Regions from separate parts of the Homo sapiens genome. Here region 1 is linked to region 2. Evidence: fine-mapped QTL for protein levels in blood plasma. A gene starts in region 2. The other region holds a variant in brackets. All regions are shown on one strand. Distances are between the middles of the regions. Region 1 has its middle 86 kb from the start of BTC. Region 2 holds the start of BTC (betacellulin).

What was found. A credible set is the group of variants that fine-mapping cannot tell apart. PIP is the chance, under the fine-mapping model, that this variant and not a neighbour inherited with it causes the effect. The UK Biobank Pharma Proteomics Project read protein levels with antibody pairs (Olink). The fine-mapping took linkage between variants from a reference panel, not from the people measured, so its PIPs are less certain.
Region 1: its variant is the best candidate, but not a certain one, in a credible set for the plasma level of the BTC protein (UK Biobank, PIP 0.73).

What each region holds. Positions count from the first base shown.
Region 1 is chr4:74,704,235-74,713,667 of GRCh38, forward strand. No RefSeq gene overlaps it. Among named protein-coding and RNA genes, the nearest start is that of BTC, 86 kb to the right of the region's middle. The variant C/T (reference allele first, on the strand shown) is at 4,173.
Region 2 is chr4:74,790,817-74,800,068 of GRCh38, forward strand. BTC (betacellulin) reads right to left here and starts at 3,707. Exons shown (of 6, transcript NM_001729.4): 1 at 3,446-3,707. The coding sequence starts at 3,509.

The sequences.
Region 1 (9,433 bases), 86 kb before region 2:
CCTCCTTTCCCAGGCACCCAGAGCCTTCTGTCTTCTATAAACCTCCCTTGCAGTGTCCCAGCAGCTCTGGATGGTACCCTATGCCCATACTCCCCTCAGTATATGCATGTCAAGTTTCCTTTTTCCTCAGGTTCTTACTGCCTCTGGTTCTTACTTAACAAGTGTTAAAGGTATACTGTGTTGCTGCCTCTCTAGTAATAATAGCTAGCATTTCTTGAACATTTGCTATGTACCAGGTATTATTCTAAGCTCTTTCTATGTAACTCGTTTAATATTCACTGAAATCCCATGACAAAGGTACTGTTAGTAGGAAAACTGAGGCTCAGAGAGGTTCAGAAATTTGCCCAAACACACGCAAATAAGTGGTTTGTATTTGAACCCAGGCAGTCTGATTCCTGAGCATCCAGAATCTATGCTTTTAACTGCATACAGCACAACTTTTAGCATTTTGTCAGTCATCTTTGGAAAATAAGAGGTTTTAATGCTAAGTGTTGGGCTCACAGGAGTTAAAACTACTTTGGCAGGACAATAAGAAAAGATAATTTGCATAAAAAGTCCTCACATCAGACCTTGTAGATAAAAACCTACCAATGGCGTGCCAAACCAAGTTCACTGTTTCTCTTCATAAGGTTAAATGAAGACTCTTGAGGAGATAAAAGATTCCCTCATCTCAAGAACTTACTACCCAAATGACACTTGTAGTAGTCTTTCTGTTCCAGTGATGATCTGGTGCTCCTTTAAGGAAGGAGTGGGATCCTATAAATAGGAAGATGATCTGCTTGGGTGCCATTCTATAGGATGGCACTATTTCCCAAACTGGAGTATGTTTTGATTGTCTCTTCTTCACTCCATTGGTGAGGGAGGCATTCCCACCCTGGAATTATAGGGATGGCAGAACACACAACGCCCAGCACTGGGCAGATTATATCCCAGCAGTTTATCAGTCACATAGATGCACAGACTGGGGAAGAACACTGCACTCCACTCAGGACGGCGGGGTGAGTTGCATTTGGGAACACAGTGAACAAGCAGAGTTGTGGGAGGCAGGCTTTGTAGTACCAAGAGGGTGAGGTGACCCTTGATTCCTGCAGAAGCACGTGCTTGGCTTGTTTTAATAATGTTGCAGGCCCAGAATTAAAGCCTGCTATTGAGGGATAAACAGACACTGTGCCTGGTTCCTCTGGTAAGTAGTGTTGTTTGGCTGGAGGACTTTATCCACAGGAGTAGAGTGGAGGAGGGGGGAGCTTGTGATTAGGCCATTAAAAACTCTCCCAGTTTCAGATGGCAAAGAAGCACATAATGCTGAATCTTAATTTCAAGCCTGATACCACAAGGCGGAGGACAGTCACGGGTGATAGCAAGATGTGTTCATGTGGTTCACAACACATACATAAGTATATTGATTATCTAGTGAGAAAATTACTCCTTTTGCTGGGATTGAATGAGAATTTCATTCAATCCTCAGATTTTATCAAGGAGGAAATTTGGGGTCAATGCCATTGTGCATTTACCAGCTCTCAAAGACTTGCTCATCTCCCTTTCTAACAATAACAAAGCAAGTCCAAAACCTTTTCCATGGGCAGTTAATACTATCTATCCAGAATTTTAAAATATTGTTTCCTTTTCGTTGCATTAATATTTGTTGTTTGCCTTCTATTTATAGAGATGCTGATATTCTAATTACGATAGTGATATAGTTGCCTTTTAAATAACTATGAATTTAAAACACAGGAAATAAAGGAATATCAAGTAAATAATACTATAGTAAATAGCACAGAGAAATGTATAATTATTGAACAAGATTCCAACATTTGGGAAATTCTTTAGTATGAGATAATGGTTTTCCTGGCTCATCCACTATGGGCACAGTGATAATGACTGTTAATATTAACAGAATACATTAAGTTTGGATATGAATGGTATCTGAGCAAGTTCTTTCTAATTCAAGACACTCAAAGACTAAAGATTACAGAAAAAGTTTAGTTGCAAAGATCAAAACTTATATAATGAAATCAATTATATATAGTCCTATCAAACAGTAAATAACCACACACATCTGTAGTTCAAGTAATGGTATCGACTATTGTTTCCCTATCTCAGAGAATGAATGAAAACTAAGTTGGGGTGACAGAGGTTAAGCCTCTATTCTGGTTATAATCTTTTGTGATTTAGGCTACAGTTTTAATTTCTTTGTCATGTGCTTTATGTATTTTTTTTGAAATGATACAGCATAGTACATACAAGATAAGTTGGGCTTTATAGCTAAACAGACCTGGGTTCAAATTCTGCCTCTGCCATCCACTTGCTGGGTGACTTTGAACAAATTATTTAGCCTCTCTGTACCTTGCTTCCTCATCTATAAGAAGAGATTATACGTCATTTGAAGAAATTGTCTGAGCAGTGGAACTAGTAAGTAAAAAGGACTGTGTATAGTGCCTGGCAGCACAGTAAGCCCCTGAGAGCTGGCAAATGGAACAATCTGCTTAAAGTTTGAGGTTTAAAGTTTAATGCTTCTCTGTCTGAGCTGTAGTTAACATTAACTATTTCACTCTCTCTGTAATTCTCTTATTTGTTGCCACAGAAATATGAAATTCAAGAACTCTGTAGACAGAAGTCTCCTCCTTTGCCAACGCATCCTAGCAATTCCCTCTGCAAAATACCTCTTAGAAAAACACCAAAGACATGGACTCAGCCTAAATGCCGACCAAGGATAGACTGGAAAAAGAAAATGTGGTACATATACACCATGGAACACTATGCAGCCATAAAAAAATGGGATCATATCCTTTGAAGGGGCATGGATGGAGCTGGAGTTCATTATTCTTAGAAAAGTAAAACAGAAAAAGAAAAGCAAGTACTACATGTTCTCACTTATAAGTGGGAGCTAAATGATGAGAATACATGAACACATAGAGGGGAACAAAACACTCTGGGGACTTTCAGAGGATGGAGGGTCAGAGAAAAGAGAGGATCAGGAAAAATAACTAAGTAATTCATCACCCAAGTACTAGGCTTAATACTTGAGTGATGAAATAATCTGTACAACAAACCTCCATGACACCAGTTTACCTATGTGACACCAGTTTACCTATGTAACATACCTGCACTTGTACCCTGAAGTTAAAATAAAAGTTTTTTTTTAAAAAAAGAAAACACCTGCTCTAGCTATAGGTGATGCGATTTCTTTTAATCAAATTTGCTTTAGGTAGGGAGAAAGTCTCTATCATTATGAGCAAGGTGCCCAGGATAAAAGCTTCTGAAGGACTCACAGGAAAGTTTGAGACCTGGAAAAATGTATTGGTACTGGCATATGCAAATAAAAGTCTTACTAAATCAAAATTGATAAAAGTTTAGTTAACTACAAAGCATAATATTATGCTGTAGTGGACTGAATGAGATATCCAGCACTGACCTCCAGAATCCATAAATATTACCTATTTGAAAAAAAAATCTTTGCAGAAATAAGTTAAGGATGTTTAGATGAGGAGATACTCTTGGATTATCTGAGCCAGCCCTAAATGCCATCACAAGGGTCCATAGAACAGAGAGACAGAGGAGGAAGTTATCACAGAGAGAAGAAGGTGATGTGGAGATTGAGACAATGAATGAAGAGATATACCTACAAACTAGAAAATGCCAACAGCCTCCAGAAGCTGGGACAGTCCAGGAACATCCTCTGTGGTAGCTCCCAGAGCAGGTACAAACCTGTCAACACCTTGATTTTAACCTGGTGAAATTGATTTATTTACTATTATACATTAAGTTCTGGGATACATGTGCAGAATGTGCAGGTTTCTTACATAGGTATACATGTGACATGGTGGTTTGATGCACCGATCAACCTGTCATCTACATTAGGTATTTCTCCTAATGCTATCCCTCCCCTAGCCTTCCACCCCCCAACAGGCCCCAGTGTGTGATGTTCCCCTCCCTGTGTCCATGTGTTCTCATTGTTCAGCTCCCAATTATGAGCGAGAAAATGTGGTATTTGGTTTTCTGTTGCTGTGTTAGTTTGCTGAGAATGATGGTTTCCAGCTTCATCCATGTCCCTGCAAAGGACATGAACTTATCCTTTTTTACGGCTGCATAGTATTCCATGGTATATATGTACCACATTTTCTTTATCCAGTCTATCATTGATGGGCATTTGGGTGGGTTCCAAGTCTTTGATA[C/T]TGTGAATAGTGCTGCAATAAACATATATGTGCACGTGTCTTTATAGTAGAATGATTTATAATCCTTTGGGTATATACCCAGTAACTGGATTGCTGAGTCAAATGGTATTTCTGGTTCTAAATCCTTGAGGAATCACCACACTATCTTCCACAATGGTTGAACTAATTTACACTCCCACCAACAGTGTAAAAGTATTCCTATTTCTCCGCATCTTTGCCAGCATCTGTTGTTTCCTGACTTTTTAATGATTGCCATTCTAACTGGCATGAGATGGTATCTCATTGTAGTTTTGATTTGCATTTCTCTAATGACCAGTGATGATGAGCTTTTTTTCATGTTTATTGGCTGCATGAATGTCTTCTTTTGAGAAGTGTCTGTCATAGCCTTCACTCACTTTTTGATGGGGTTGTTTTTTCCTTATAAATTTGTTTAAGTTCCTCATAGATTCTGGTATTAGCCCTTTGTCAGATGGATAGATTGCAAAAATTTTCTCCCATTCTCTAGGTTGCCTGTTTGCTCTGATGATAGTTTCTTTTGCTGTGCAGAAGCTCTTTAGTTTAATTAGATCCATTTGTCAGTTTTGGCTTTTGTTGCCACTGCTTTGGTGTTTTAGTCATGAAGTCTTTGCCCATGCCTATGGCCTGAATGCTACTGCCTAGGTTTTCTTCTAGGGTTTCTATGGTTTTAGGTCTCACATTTAAATCTTTAATTCATCTTGACTTAATTTTTGTATAGTGTGTGTGGAAGGGATCCAGTTTCAGTTTTCTGCATATGGCTAGCCAGTTTTCCCAACACCACTTATTAAATAGGGAATCCTTTCCCTATTGCTTGTTTTTGTCAGGTTTGTCAAAGATCAGATGGTAGTAGATGTGTGGCGTTATTTCTGAGGCCTCTGTTCTGTTCCGTTCATCTATATATCTGTTTTGGTACCAGTACCATGCTGTTTTTGTTACTGTAGCCCTGTAGTATAGTTTGAAGCTAGGTAGCTTGATGCCTCCAGCTTTGTTCTTTTTGCTTAGGATTGTCTTGGCTATGCAGGCTCTTTTTTGGTTCCATATGAAATTTAAACTAGTTTTTTCCTAATTCTGTGAAGAAAGTCAATGGTAGCTTGATGGAGATAGCACTGAATTTATAAATTGCTTTAGGCAGTATGGCCATTTTCACAATATTTATTTTTACTATCCATGGGCATAAAATGTTTTTCCATTTGTGTCCTCTCTTATTTGGTTGAGCAGTGGTTTGTAGTTCTCCTTGAAGAGGTCCTTCACATCCCTTGTAAGTTGGATTCCTAGGTATTTCATTCTCTTTGTAGCAATTGTGAATGGGAGTTCTCTCATGATTTGGCTCTCTGTTTTTCTATTATTGGTGTGTAGGAATGCCTGTGGTTTTTGCACATTGATTTTTGTATTCTGAGACGTTGCTGAAGTTGCTTATCTGCTTAAGGAGATTTGGGGTTGAAACGATGGGGTTTTCTAAATATACAATCATGTCATCTGAAAACAGAGACAATTTGACTTCCTCTCTTTGTATTTGAATACCTATCATTTCTTTCTCTTGCCTGATTGCCATGGCCAGAACTTCCAATACTATGTTGAATAGGAGTGGTGAGAGAGGGCATCCTTGTCTTGTGCTGACTTTCAAAGGGAATGCTTCTGGCTTTTGCCCATTCAGTATGATATCAGTTGCGGGTTTGTCATAAATAGCTTTTATTATTTTGAGATACGTTCCATCAGTACCTAGTTTATTGAGAGTTTTTCACATGAAGGGGCACTGAATTTTATCAAAGGCCTTTTCTGCATCTATTGAGATAATCATGTGGTTGTTATCATTGGTTCTGTTTATGTGATGGATTATGTTTACTGATTTGCGTATGTTGAACCAGCCTTGCATCCCAGGGATGAATCCGGCTTGATGGTGATGGATAAGCTTTTTGATGTGCTACTGGATTCAGTTTGCCATTATTTTATTGTGGATTTTTGCATCAATATTCATCAGGGATATTGGCCTGAAATTTTCTTTTTTGTTTGTGTCTCTGCCAGGTTTTGGTATCAGGATGATGCTGGCCTCATAAAATGAGTTAGGGAGGAGTCACTCTGTTTCTATTGTTTGGAATAGTTTCAGAAGGAATGGTACCAGCTCCTCTTTGTACCTCTGGTAGAATTTGGTAGTAACTCTGTATGGTCCTGGGCTTTTTGTGGTTGGTAAGCTATTAATTACTGCCTTAATTTCAGAACTTGTTATTGGTCTTTTCAGGGATTTGACTTCTTCCTTGTTTAGTCTTGGAAGGGTGTATGTGTCCAGGAATTTGTCCATTTCTTCTAGATTTTCTAGTTTATTTGCATAGAGGTTTTTTTAGTATTTTCTGATGGTAGTTTGTATTTCTGTGGGATCAGTGGTGATATCCCCTTTATCATTTTTTGTCAATTTGATTCTTCTTTCTTTTCTTCTTTATTAATCTGGCTAGTGGTCTTTTTATTTTGGTACACTTTTCAAAAAACCAGCTCCTGGATTCCTTGATTTTTTGAAGCATTTTTTATGTCTCTATCTCCTTCAGTTCTGCTCTGATCTTAGTTATTTCTTGTCTTCTACTAGCTTTTGAATTTGTTTGCTCTTGCTTCTCTAGTTCTTTTAATTGTGATGTTAGGGTGTCGATTTTAGATCATTCTCCCCTTTCTCATGTGGGCATTTAGTGCTGTAAATTTCCCTCTACATACTGTTTAGCTGTGTCCCAGAGATTCTGGTACATTGTGCCTTTGTTCTCATTTGTTTCAATGAACTTATTTATTTCTGCCTTAATTTTGTTATTTACCCAGTAGTCATTCAGGAGCAGGTTTTTCAGTTTCCATGTAGTTGTATGTTTTTGAGTGAGTTTCTTAATCCTTCTTCTAATTTGATTGCACTGTAGGCTGAGAGACTGTTGTGATTTCCATTCTTTTGCATTTGCTAAGGAGTATTTTACTGCCAACTATGTGGTCAGTTTTAGAATAACTGTGATGTGGTGCTGAGAAGAATGTATATTCTGTCGATTTGGAGTGAAGAGTTCTTTTATGTCTATTAGGTCTGCTTGGTCCAGAGCTGAGTTCAAGTCCTGAATATCCTTCTTAATTTTCTGTCTCATTGATCTGTCTAACATTGACAGTGGGGTGTTAAAGTCTCCCACTATTACTGTGTGGGAGTCTAAGTCTCTTTGTAGGTCTCTAAGAATTTGCTTTATGAATCTGGGTGCTCCTGTATTGGTTGCATATATATTGAGAATAGTTAGCTCTTCTTGTTTCATTGATCCCTTTACCATTATGTAATGCCCTTCTTTGTCTTTTTTGATCTTTGTTGTTTTAAAGTCTGTTTTATCAGAGACTAGGTTTGCAACCCTGCTTTTTTTTTTTTTTTTTTTTTGCTTTCCATTTGCTTGGTAAATATTCCATCATCCCTTTATTTTGAGCCTATGTGTGTCTTTGCACATGAGATGGGTCTCCTGAATACAGCACACCAATGGGGCTTGACTCTTTATCCAATTTGTCAGTCTGTGTCTTTTAATTGGGGTGTTTAGCCCATGTACATTTAAGGTTAATATTGTTATGTGTGAATTTGATTCTGTCATTATGATGTTTTCTGGTTATTTTGCTTTTTAGTTGATGCAGTTTCTTCATAGTTTCAATGGTCTTTATAATTTGGTATGTTTTTGCAGTGGCTGGTACCGGTTGTTCCTTTCCATATTTAGTGCTTTCCTCAGGAGCTCTTGCAAGGCAGTCCTGGTGGTGACAAAATCTCTCAGCATCTTCTTGTCTGTGAAGGATTTTATTTCTCCTTCACTTATGAAGCTTAGTTTGGCTGGGTATGAAATTCTGGGTTGAAAATTCTGTTCTTTAAGAATGTTGAATATTGGCCCCCACTGTTTTCTGGCTTATAGGCTTTCTGTAGAGAGATCCACTGTTAATCTGATGGGCTTCCCTTTGTGATTAACACAACCTTTCTCTCTGTCTGCCCTTAACATTTTCCTTTTATTTCTACCTCGGTGAATCTGACAATTATGTGTCTTGGGGTTGCTCTTCTCAAGAGGTATCTTTGTGGTGTTCTCTGCATTTTCTGAATATGAATGCTGGCCTGTCTTGCTACATTGAGGAATTTCTCCTGGATAATATCCTGAAGAGTGTTTTCCAACTTGGTTCCATTCACCCCATCATTTTCAGGTACACCAATAAAACATGGGTTTGGTCTTTTCACATAGTCCCATATTTCTTGGAGGCTTTGTTCATTCCTTTTTCTCTAATCTTGTCTTCACACTTTATTTCATTAAGTTTATCTTCAATCTTTGAAATCCTTTCTTCCCACTTGATTGATTTGTCTATTGATACCTATGTATGCTTCATGAGGTTCTCATGCTGTGTTTATCAGCTCCATCAGATCATTTATATTCTTCTCTAAACTGTTTAATCTAGTTAGCAACTCCTCTAACCTTTTTTCAAGGTTCTTAGCTTCCTTGCTTTGGGTTAGAACATGCTCCTTTAGCTTGGAGGAGTTTGTTATTACCCACCTTCTGAAGTCTACTTCTGTCAATTCGTCAAACTCATTCTCCATCCAGTTTTGTTCCCTTGCTGGTGAGGAGTTGTGATCCTTTGGAGGAGAAGAGGCATTCTGATTTTTGGAATTTTCAGCCTTTTTGTGCTGGTTTTTCCTCATCTTCATGGATTTATCTACCTTTGGTCTTTCATGTTGGTGACCTTTGGATGGGGTTTCTGTGTGGACATCTTTTTTGTTGACATTGATGCTATTCCTTTCTGTTTCTTAGTTTTCCTTTTGACAGTCAGGCCCCTCTGCTGCAGGTCTGCTGGAGTCTGCTGGAGTTTGCTCCAGACCCTGTTTGCCTGGGTATCACCAGTGGAGGCTGCAGAACAGCAAAGATTGCTGCCTGTTCTTTCCTCTGGAAGCTTCATCCCAGAGGGGCACCCACCAGATGGCAGCTGGACCTCTCCTGTATGACGTGTCTGTTGACCCCTGCTGGGAGCTGCCTCCCAGTCAGGAGGCACAGGGATCAGGGACCCACTTGAGGAGGCAGTCTGTCTATTAGCAGAGCTCAAGCGCTGTGCTGGGAGATCCACCGCTGTCTTCAGAACTGGCAGGCAGAAACGTTTAAGTCTACTGAAGCTGCGCCCATAGTCGCCCCTTCCCCCAGGTGCTCTGTCTCAGGGAGGTGGGAGTTTTATCTATAAGCCCCTGACTGGGGTTGCTGCCTTTCTTTCAGAGATGACCCACCCAGAGCGGA
Region 2 (9,252 bases):
GGTTTCCTGGAAGCAAGGAAGAGCCAGGAGTCCAAGAATCTGTCAGAGAATAGCCAGAGCCAGGGATGGCACAGATGTATGGGTAGGCAGTAGGGAAAGCAAAGGTGTAGGAGACAGCTAGGATGAGCTTACATGCTTTTTAAATAAGTCAAAAGAAATGGTTTCCAGTATTGGTTTTTCCTGTTATATGCAACGCAACGTCTCTGCACTGGAGTGTCCTATCTCTCCCTAGACAGGACATTCTGCACTTGAATGTCCTATCTCTCCCTACCTAATTCAGCAACAAATATTTATCTGCTACGATCTCTTGAGACCAGGAGTTTAAGACCAGCCTGGCCAACATGCCAAAACCCCGTCTCTTCAAAAAATACAATAATTAGCTGGGCGTGGTGGCGAGTGCCTGTTGTCCCAGCTACTCGAGAGGCTGAGACAGGAGAGTCACTTGAGCCCTGGAGGCGGAGGTTGCAGTGAGCTGAGATCATGCCACTGTAACTGAGCCTGAGCGAAAGAGTGAGACTGTCTCAAAAAAAGAAAAAAGAAAAAGAAAAAGAAAAAGAAAATACAGTAGAGAAATACGAGCCCATTTTGGAAAATCTCATTTTTTGAGAAAGTAAGATTAAATGGCTCAGGATTTCTACTGACTTAGAAAATGCCTTTAAACAGTTTTAGAAAATTAAACCAAATTAATGCATATAAAGAATATCGATAACACATAAACGTGTAATTTATATTTATATTAAATGTATTTGTACCATATAATCTGCTTATGGTATACCTTCTTTTTATATCTCCAACCCCACTTCTGTCTTTATAAAATTTCTCAAAGAAAGTAGTACCTAATTTGCATATGTTAGAATGGAAATTATCCTGTAAAGATGCATCTACTAAATGCCAGATGTATTTAAGGAGCATCTACATTTGTAATAGACATAAGCCATTTCTAATTTAAATCACATGTTATTTTGTTTACTTTTTGAAAAGAATGTGACATGGAAAGGGCATCACCATCTAATGAAACCTCTTCATTTTACAAATTAGAAAAACAATGCCCAGAAAGTTGTAACTTACAGACATCTCGGAGTCATGAAGTGGTAGAGCTGGAACCAGGGCTCATGTCTGCTCAATGCCCACTCTCATCGCATTTCCACCATCTCACACACACACACACACACACACACACACACACACACAAACACTAGTGTCTCATGCATCTTATTGCTCACATTCTTTTCAAAAAGTAAATAGAACAACATGTGACATAATTTAGGAAGGGGACTTAAAAGTAAAGTGTGTATGACAGAAATAGGGCCACTTAATGGAAACAGCGATGCCAACAAATTACGTTCCTTAGCATTTTGCAAGAAATAGAGCTTTAAGGGGATCTAGAGACCAAATTCAATTTCCCAAGCCAATCATTTAACAGGGCGGTTGTACATTTAGGTTACCCTGAGTGTACAATAGCACTGGATTCGAGTTTTGCTTTTTGATTTTCATTTCTGTCTTTTGACAAGTTTTGTGATAGTAAAGGGGAAAGAATGTCCATCGACTTTCAATAGTCATTTCTACTATGACACCTCTGCTAAAACATCACCCTAATTTAGGCCCCAAGTAGCTCATGCCCAGATTATACCTACGAGACAATCAGGTCCTCTGGCCCACAGGCGCCCCCCCTTCCTATACTGCACCTCACTGACAGATTTATCACCTTTAAACCATTGTTTGCATCATATCACTCCCAGTCAAGCCCTGTGATGGTGTGTGTTTAATAGCTTATTGATTCTGTTCCAAATATTCTAATCTGGCTTTTTCAGTTCTTCATAATCTGTCTGCCTCTCAGAAATTCTACTCTTTCCAGTAAAGCATGCTCATTCGCATCGCCAACCCTTTACTAAATGCTTTTTCCCTTGTCTCTGTTCCCTCTTTCCTCTCTACTATTGCAAACTCTACCCAAGCCTCAAGGCACGCATTCGTGTCCTCCATTCAGCCTTTCCCCACTATTCCAGCCCCCGCTGTTGAGCTCTTTCTCCCTTTTCTGATTCCGTGAATTTTTCCACAGGTTACCCTGCTGGGCTTGCATATCCAAATTCAGTGCAAGTTCTAGGGCAGGAATCATGTTTTATTTTAGGAATCTCATGAGCCCTTTCCCCACCTCCATTGCTACATACCTCAGCACCTTGCTGACTACGACAGATTCTCAGGGAATACTTTGACTGTTGGATAGTTTAGACACGGTGGAGGAAGAGAATGTCAGCTACTTGCAAGCAATGCTGGCAAAAGCATCAGTACTATTTCTAGGGTTAAGTCTCAACCCCATTGCTCTTCTTCATGAATGTACACATTCACTCTACCACTAAATTGTTACTGACTCCTTCCTCTTCAGCGTTTGTTAAATAAGTTTATTTTCTCTAACCTTGGTCCTAAGTCTGATCCACCTCCAAGCAAGTTCACTGTACCTTTTTAGCCACCTCTCTTACTCCAAGGACACAGTCAAATGAAAGTTTTCATTTAGGCTCCCCCTCTCTTTCCTCAATAAGAGGAATTCCCATTCTTTTTCATTTGTGGTGTCCCCTTCCCAGGCTTGAAGGTAGGAGTGATATCGTGGTGACACTTCAGCTGTGGAGACTCTCCTCCTACCACATAAATGCTCCAAACCCAGATGTGTCTACAGCCCAGCTAAGATTAGAAAATGTTACTGGTTTCCCTTCCCTTCTCTGCCCCGCAAAATGACCATGATGCAGAGAGCAAGCTTTGAAGAGTTGGGATTTTTTCCTACTTAGAAGCCTTCTCACTACCTTCCCTCGGTGGAGGGGAAGGGGAAGCCTGCTTCCAGCCACATCTGAAGTTCCAGCTCTGCTTTGTGAGTTCTGACTCCTAAGGAGGCAGGAGAGACCCTCTGGAGGGCTCTAGGCATCCTGCTACTCCTCCTCCCGCTGGCACTCTTCCCTAACGCCAGGTGATCACACCTTCAGTCAAAGAGTTCCCGTTCTTCTGCCTCCTGCAGGATATGCTTCTTGGTCTATACTACCACGTGAGCTTCTTTAGTGGGTTTCCCTGCTCGCCCCTGCCCCCACCCCCCGACCCTCACTTGCGAGCACAGCGCCTCACCCCGGTGGACAGCCCGCCGGCGCCGCCAGGCCCTCTGCTGTGCGCACAAGTCAGCAGCTGGCGGCCTGCTCGCAGCACTGGCAGCGAGGACCTCGGAATCGCTTCCGCCCTCGGGCCTTCTCACGCGTCTAGGGACTGCCTCCAGCAGGTGCAGCCCCAGGTGCCCAATTGCCAGATCTTTAACCTCGCGCTCTCCCAGCCTTCAAAGTTCTCCAACCCGCGCCTGCCAGCCCCAGCGCGCCCTCTTGTCCAGATGCCAGCTCGGTTCAGGGTTCGCCCTCCCCGCGACTCCAGCCCCAGACTTTCCTCCTGGTTTCCAGTGCCCAGCACGGCCACTTACCCAGGGCAAGGGCCAGGAGCAGTGGCAGGGAGCTGGCGCCGCTGCACCGGGCGGCCCGGTCCATCAACCCCGCTCTGCCGGGCCGGGCAGCCCCTAGACAAGTCTCCCTCCTTCTTCGCCCCCTTCCCGGGCCTCGGGCGCCTGAGAGGGTGCCTGGAAACTAATCCCGGAGGCAGAAGGAAACGAAACTACTTCCCAGGCTGGCACCCTGGCTACAAGGCAGGGAAACACCCAGGGCGGGAGGCCGGCCGGCTCCGTGAATGTCGCCGGGAGGAGGGAGCCTCCTATTTATCCCCCCTCCTCCTGCACACACCCCGCCAAAGAGGCGCAGGACTTGGTCCTGGGAGCCTCCACGCTGCTCCCACCCAAATTGCCCCACACCCATACCCACACCCAGGGACATATTCGGGCTGCCCTCGGACCAGCTCACCACTCCCCCTGCTGGGTCTCACCTGACTGACTGTTCATTTCCCTACCCCCTAGGGCGTAAACAAGGTAGGGAGGGAGATGTAAAGAATCCGCGTGGAGGGGTGTCGGGGGTTCCGGTCGGGCCTGCAGGCTGACCTAAACTCCTGGAAGCCACCGAGGAAGAGTCAGAGACCCAAACGTGTTCTGGAATTCTAACTTCCTTTATTTCAGAGGATTGCTAGTGTCATGGAGAAACCAGACTCACCATTCATTGTGGTTGACTTCAGGCATTTGATAATGCAGGCAATTTCAAAAGAGTCATTGTTGCCTTTTAAAGTCTTGAAGCCATAGCGAAACCTCGTCTCTACAAAAAATACAAAAGTAAATTAATAGCCGGGTATGGTGGTGTGCACCTGCAGTCCCATCCATTCCCTGAGGCTGAGGTGGGGAGGATCGCTTAAGCTTGGGAGATGGAGCCTTCAATGAGCCTAGATCGAGCCACTTCACTCCAGCCAAGGCGCAAGAGTGAGACACTGTTTCAAAACAACGACAACAACAACAACAACATCAGCAACAAAAAAAAAAAAAAAAAAAAAGAAAAGAAATGAAAAAAGTCTTCAAGCTAGTGTCTTAGTTTCTGGGTGCATTGTCTTCTAATAATTCATAAAATTGGGGCTCACCAGGACCTACTTTAGAAATTTCATTTGTATTTCTGTTTATGAATTTACTCATGTATTCAGTATATTTTCATTTACTTGCATTAAGCAATTTCTGGAACAGAAAGACATCCTCACAGCTTTTAGAGAAAGCAAGCAGCATCCAATTTTACCTTATGTGGTTATATATTGCCTCCAAGATAACCAAAAGATACAGCTGCTTTTGTACTGGTCTGTGTTCCTCATATAAGATTTATGTGGATAATTATGCCCCTCAGTACAGAAATTTTATTTCTATAGCATCCAAAAGTCATGTAAGCCTTATTTTACATATGAAATGTAGTTTGGGTGTCTGCCTCTTCCTCCTCATCCTACTGTTTAAGTTAAGTAAATTGTTGTGCACTTGTCTCCCACGAATAACATTTCATTTCAAAACTAAATTATTTTACTGCCCCAGGCAACTGATATATCCGGTGGAATAAAAATCAGCTCTTAATTTTCAGAATCCCATTCTAGTCCCACATGACAGCTCATAAAACATTGGTAGAGAGGGCAGGCATGAAGTTTAAAGAAACCCAAAGTTGTAAGATGGAAGGTTACTGCACCCCAGCTAAAAAGAGCAGAAACACTGGAAGCCAATGGATTTTGACATCATCTCCCTCCCTCTCAACACTTCCACCCTGCATTTTTCTTTTCTGATATTCTCTCCATCTCTCAGCACCAGTGCCCTAAGTTAAAGTATCTCTTACTCCAAGATGGCATTTAGCCTAGCCAACAGCTGTCCTGTTAGCCCCAACAGAATGCTACAATTTTGTTTTCCTTTTTCGTAGATACTAATAAAAAAAAAAAAAAGCGAGACCTAAACAAAAAGTACTAAATGTTTGTTGAGCATTGGAAAATTCCAGGACTTGGTGTAAGTATTCATCATTTATGCCATTCAAGTGGTAAATTAACTTTTTCAGGCCACTAGAATATGAAGTAGTATAATTTAATATACTAAATAGGACAGATAAATTAATAACCTTCCTTGAGGGCTTTATTTACCACCATAAATAAAATAAGTACTCCCAAGAAAATCCAAATTTTCTGACACTGGATATCCAATCTCTTCAATGTTAAGAGACTTTTCCTGTCTTTTTTTGTTTGTTTCTTTTTTTTCCCCTCACTTTCTTTCTCTCTGTTCTTCCTCCTCTTCTTCCCTCTCCTTCTCCTTCTTCTTTTTCTCCCCCAGCCCCCAACCACCTCTCTCTCTCAAGTCATTTGCTTATGGGGCATGGTAAAGCTGGAATACAACCATTACATTTGGAAGAGTGGAAGGTAAGAATTGATTTTCCTGAGTCCTCAAACATGTAACTGAGTTGCGTCTCAGTGCTTTCATTTGCAAGCTGAGCTGTTACTAAGAGAAAAATAAACCAAAGTTACACCAGAGTCACAAGGTGAAACTTGTATTCCTAGTTAACCCCAAGGTAGGAATTGCTTGAGTGCTGTTCTTCCTGTGCCAGGTTTAGGCAGGTATAACCAGTCCTCCCAAATCTGGTATGAGGCTTAAGTAGATTCCTTTGGAGGGCCTTTAAGCATCAGCCTTTTTCTCTTCCCACACAGAACAGCCTGCAGCTGGGACCGTCCTCCCCGTCTTCTGGACAGGACAAAATAAACTTGTAGTTACATATAGGGCACAACACATAAACAGACACACGCCATGATGGAAAGGAAAATTTTGGAATGCATTCCTTCTAGGCCAACATGTATTCTCCAAATGAAGGCTTTAAGGCATTCAGTAGTATAGGAAAATTTCCTAATGACCATTAACTTTATTTAATAAGAGTGGGTGAATGAAAATGATGAAAGGCATTTTTAAAATTGTAATTTTTATAGTAATGATAAGCATCATGCATTGTAGATTATTAGTGGTACAGTTACATAGAGAGAACTTTCAAATATTTTATTTAAAACTACTGAATTGGTTTCTAAGAATGTATCAGTGAAAAATCACTGCTCAAAAGTTGTATTCAGGTAATTGTATTTTATAATCTAGTTGTTCTGAGGGAGGTAGTTATTTTTTTTCCTGCCTACTTTCTTGTATCTTCCTCTTCAGTCTAGGGGATCCACTTTTTATATGTATTTCTCAATGTGTTTGATTTGTATCTCTTTTATTTTTATTTATTTTGTTTTTTGAGACAAAATCTTGCTCTTGTCCCCCAGGCTGGAGTGCAATGGCGTGATCTCTGCTCACTGCAACCTCTGCCTCCGGGTTCAAGCAATTCTCCTGTCTCAGCCTCCCAAGTAGCTGGGGATTGCTGGCACCTGCCACCACACCCAGCTAATTTTTTGTGGTTTTTTTTTAGTAGAGATGGGGTTTCACCATGTTGGCTAGACTGGTCTCGAACTCCTGACCTCAGGAGATCCACCTCGGCCTCCCAAAGTGCTGGGATTACAGGCGTGAGCAACCACGCCCGGCTGACTTGCTATCTCTTTTAAATGGCAGCTTAACATATGTTATTAAACCTCAAAAATAATTGTCTCTGTGACATTATACCTGTTAGTTTCAGTTCACCATGATGATCTTTTTCTTTGGCCATATTGAAACATACTTCAAAAAGTAACTTCTGATTTTAAAAAATCTGGGCTTTTGTGCTGGCCCTAGTTGTAGGCTAAGTGAGAAAGCACCTATGTGGCCCTAGACATCTCTTCCTAAAGTCCTTGCCACAGTGGCTTCATCTCTTCCTACTTGGTCCCAGACTTCCAGCAAGGTAGACACTCCTCTAGGTGGGACAACAGAGCTGGAATATTATGTACAATTGGTTTTGGAATCTGTTCAGTCTGTTCAATTTGGATCTGTGTCACCCAATGACTGAACCACAAACTACTTACCTCTCTGAACCTCAGTTTCCTCATTGATAAAATGTGATGGTAATGACTTGCACAGTTTTTATGATTCCCAATAATACATATCTTCAAGGAAAAAATCTGGTGTATTAGAAACTGTTCAGTGAATTATAGTTGATAGTAGTAGGAGTAGGAGTACTAGTAGTAGTAGTATTGGTAGAGATGGGTGTCTCACTATGTGACTAGTCTCGAACTCCTGGCCTCAAGTAATCTTTCCTCCTCAGCCTCCCAAAATGCTAGTATTACAAGCATGAGCCACCATGTTCCACTGATAGTTGTTATGTCATTATAAAATTTTACATGGTACATAGAGAGAACCAGTAGGAAAAGGCATCCTTACTAACCCTCTCTTACTAATAGTTGAAGTAGAGAAAGAAAGGCACAGAGCAAGGCTCTGCTGGGAAAGTAACACTGAGCTAAAATTCCATGGATTTGGGTACAATTTTGCCTCTTCATATGCCCTTACACCTCCCTTACACCTCTCTGACCACCTTCTCCATCCTTTTTATTTCTCCTTCCTCCTTCAACTCTCTTTAGAGACCAAGATAGCACGTAACCCAGGATACAAAAACGTGTTGAATATAAACAAAGTACTGTGATTTGAAGATTTAAATAAATGAGCTACCTAGTTTCCCAGAATGCAAAGAAATAAATTCAAAAATTAACTCAAAAAATGAATGTTTGTTGTTGTTGTTGTTGTTGTTGTTGTTTTTGAGACAGAGGAGTCTCACTCTGTTGCTCAGGCTGGAGTGCAATGGCGCAATCTTGGCTCACTGCAAACTCTGCCTCCCGGGTTCAAGTGATTCTCCTGCCTCAGTCTCCCAAGTAACTGGGATTGCAGACATGCATCACCACGCCAAGCTAATTTTTGTATTTTTAGTAGATACGGGGTCTCCCCATGTTGGCCATGCTGTTCTTGAACTCTCGACCTCAGGTGATCCACCCAGCTCGGCCTCCCAAAGTGCTGAGATTACAGGTGTGAGCCACCGCACCCAGCCAAATAATGAATGCTTAATGAGTTTACAACAAACTAACACAGCTTTACGTGGTCATTTTCCCTCCTTCCCCCAACTTCTTGGTAAGGAGAAATGGTGACAGGAAAGAGTAAGAAATGAGAAGCAGCAAAGCTGGAGAAGAGAGGGAGGATGAGCTTAAAATAATTCTTCAAAAAATCTTTCATAGATGCAGAATGATATGTTAAAGGAGTTAAAAAAAAGGTGAAATCTACCTCTTGTATCATCTTCGTTTCTCATCCTTCCTTTGTTTTAAGGTGACATCAATATACATGTTATTAACCTCAAAATAATTTAATGGTCCTTATGATTCCCCCAAACAATTCAGTTATATCTTTAGTCTAACAATCCTTGGAATTTAAGATTTTTTCAGAGATAACTACATGTCTTCCTTTAATGATACATTTAAATTGCTTTTATATTTCTCATAGTGTAATTTTTTCGGAAATATTTCTTTAGCCCTATAATATATACCTGCCATCTGTCCATAAATACAGTATTTTTAAAACGCTAAAACTAATGTAAACTCTTCAGAAATGACTTAGCAGAAAATATGATATCATGCTTACAAAATATTCTGAAGTTACTGTCCTTTGTCTTTAAGGTATATTGAAAGTTCTTATTATTGTCCCTATGAATCTCTGTAAGATACTTTTAATAATTTTGTCCCCAGCATTACCACCTAATAATGGTCCACATAACTAGTTAGTTTTGAGATCCAAGGAGTATAATCCACAAATGCAAACAAGTTTAAACCTTAGAAAATAAAACCAGCATTACTCTCTAAATTTACTATGTTTAGGCTTTTGGGAGATAAGAAAAACTAGTATCCGTTTAATTTAAT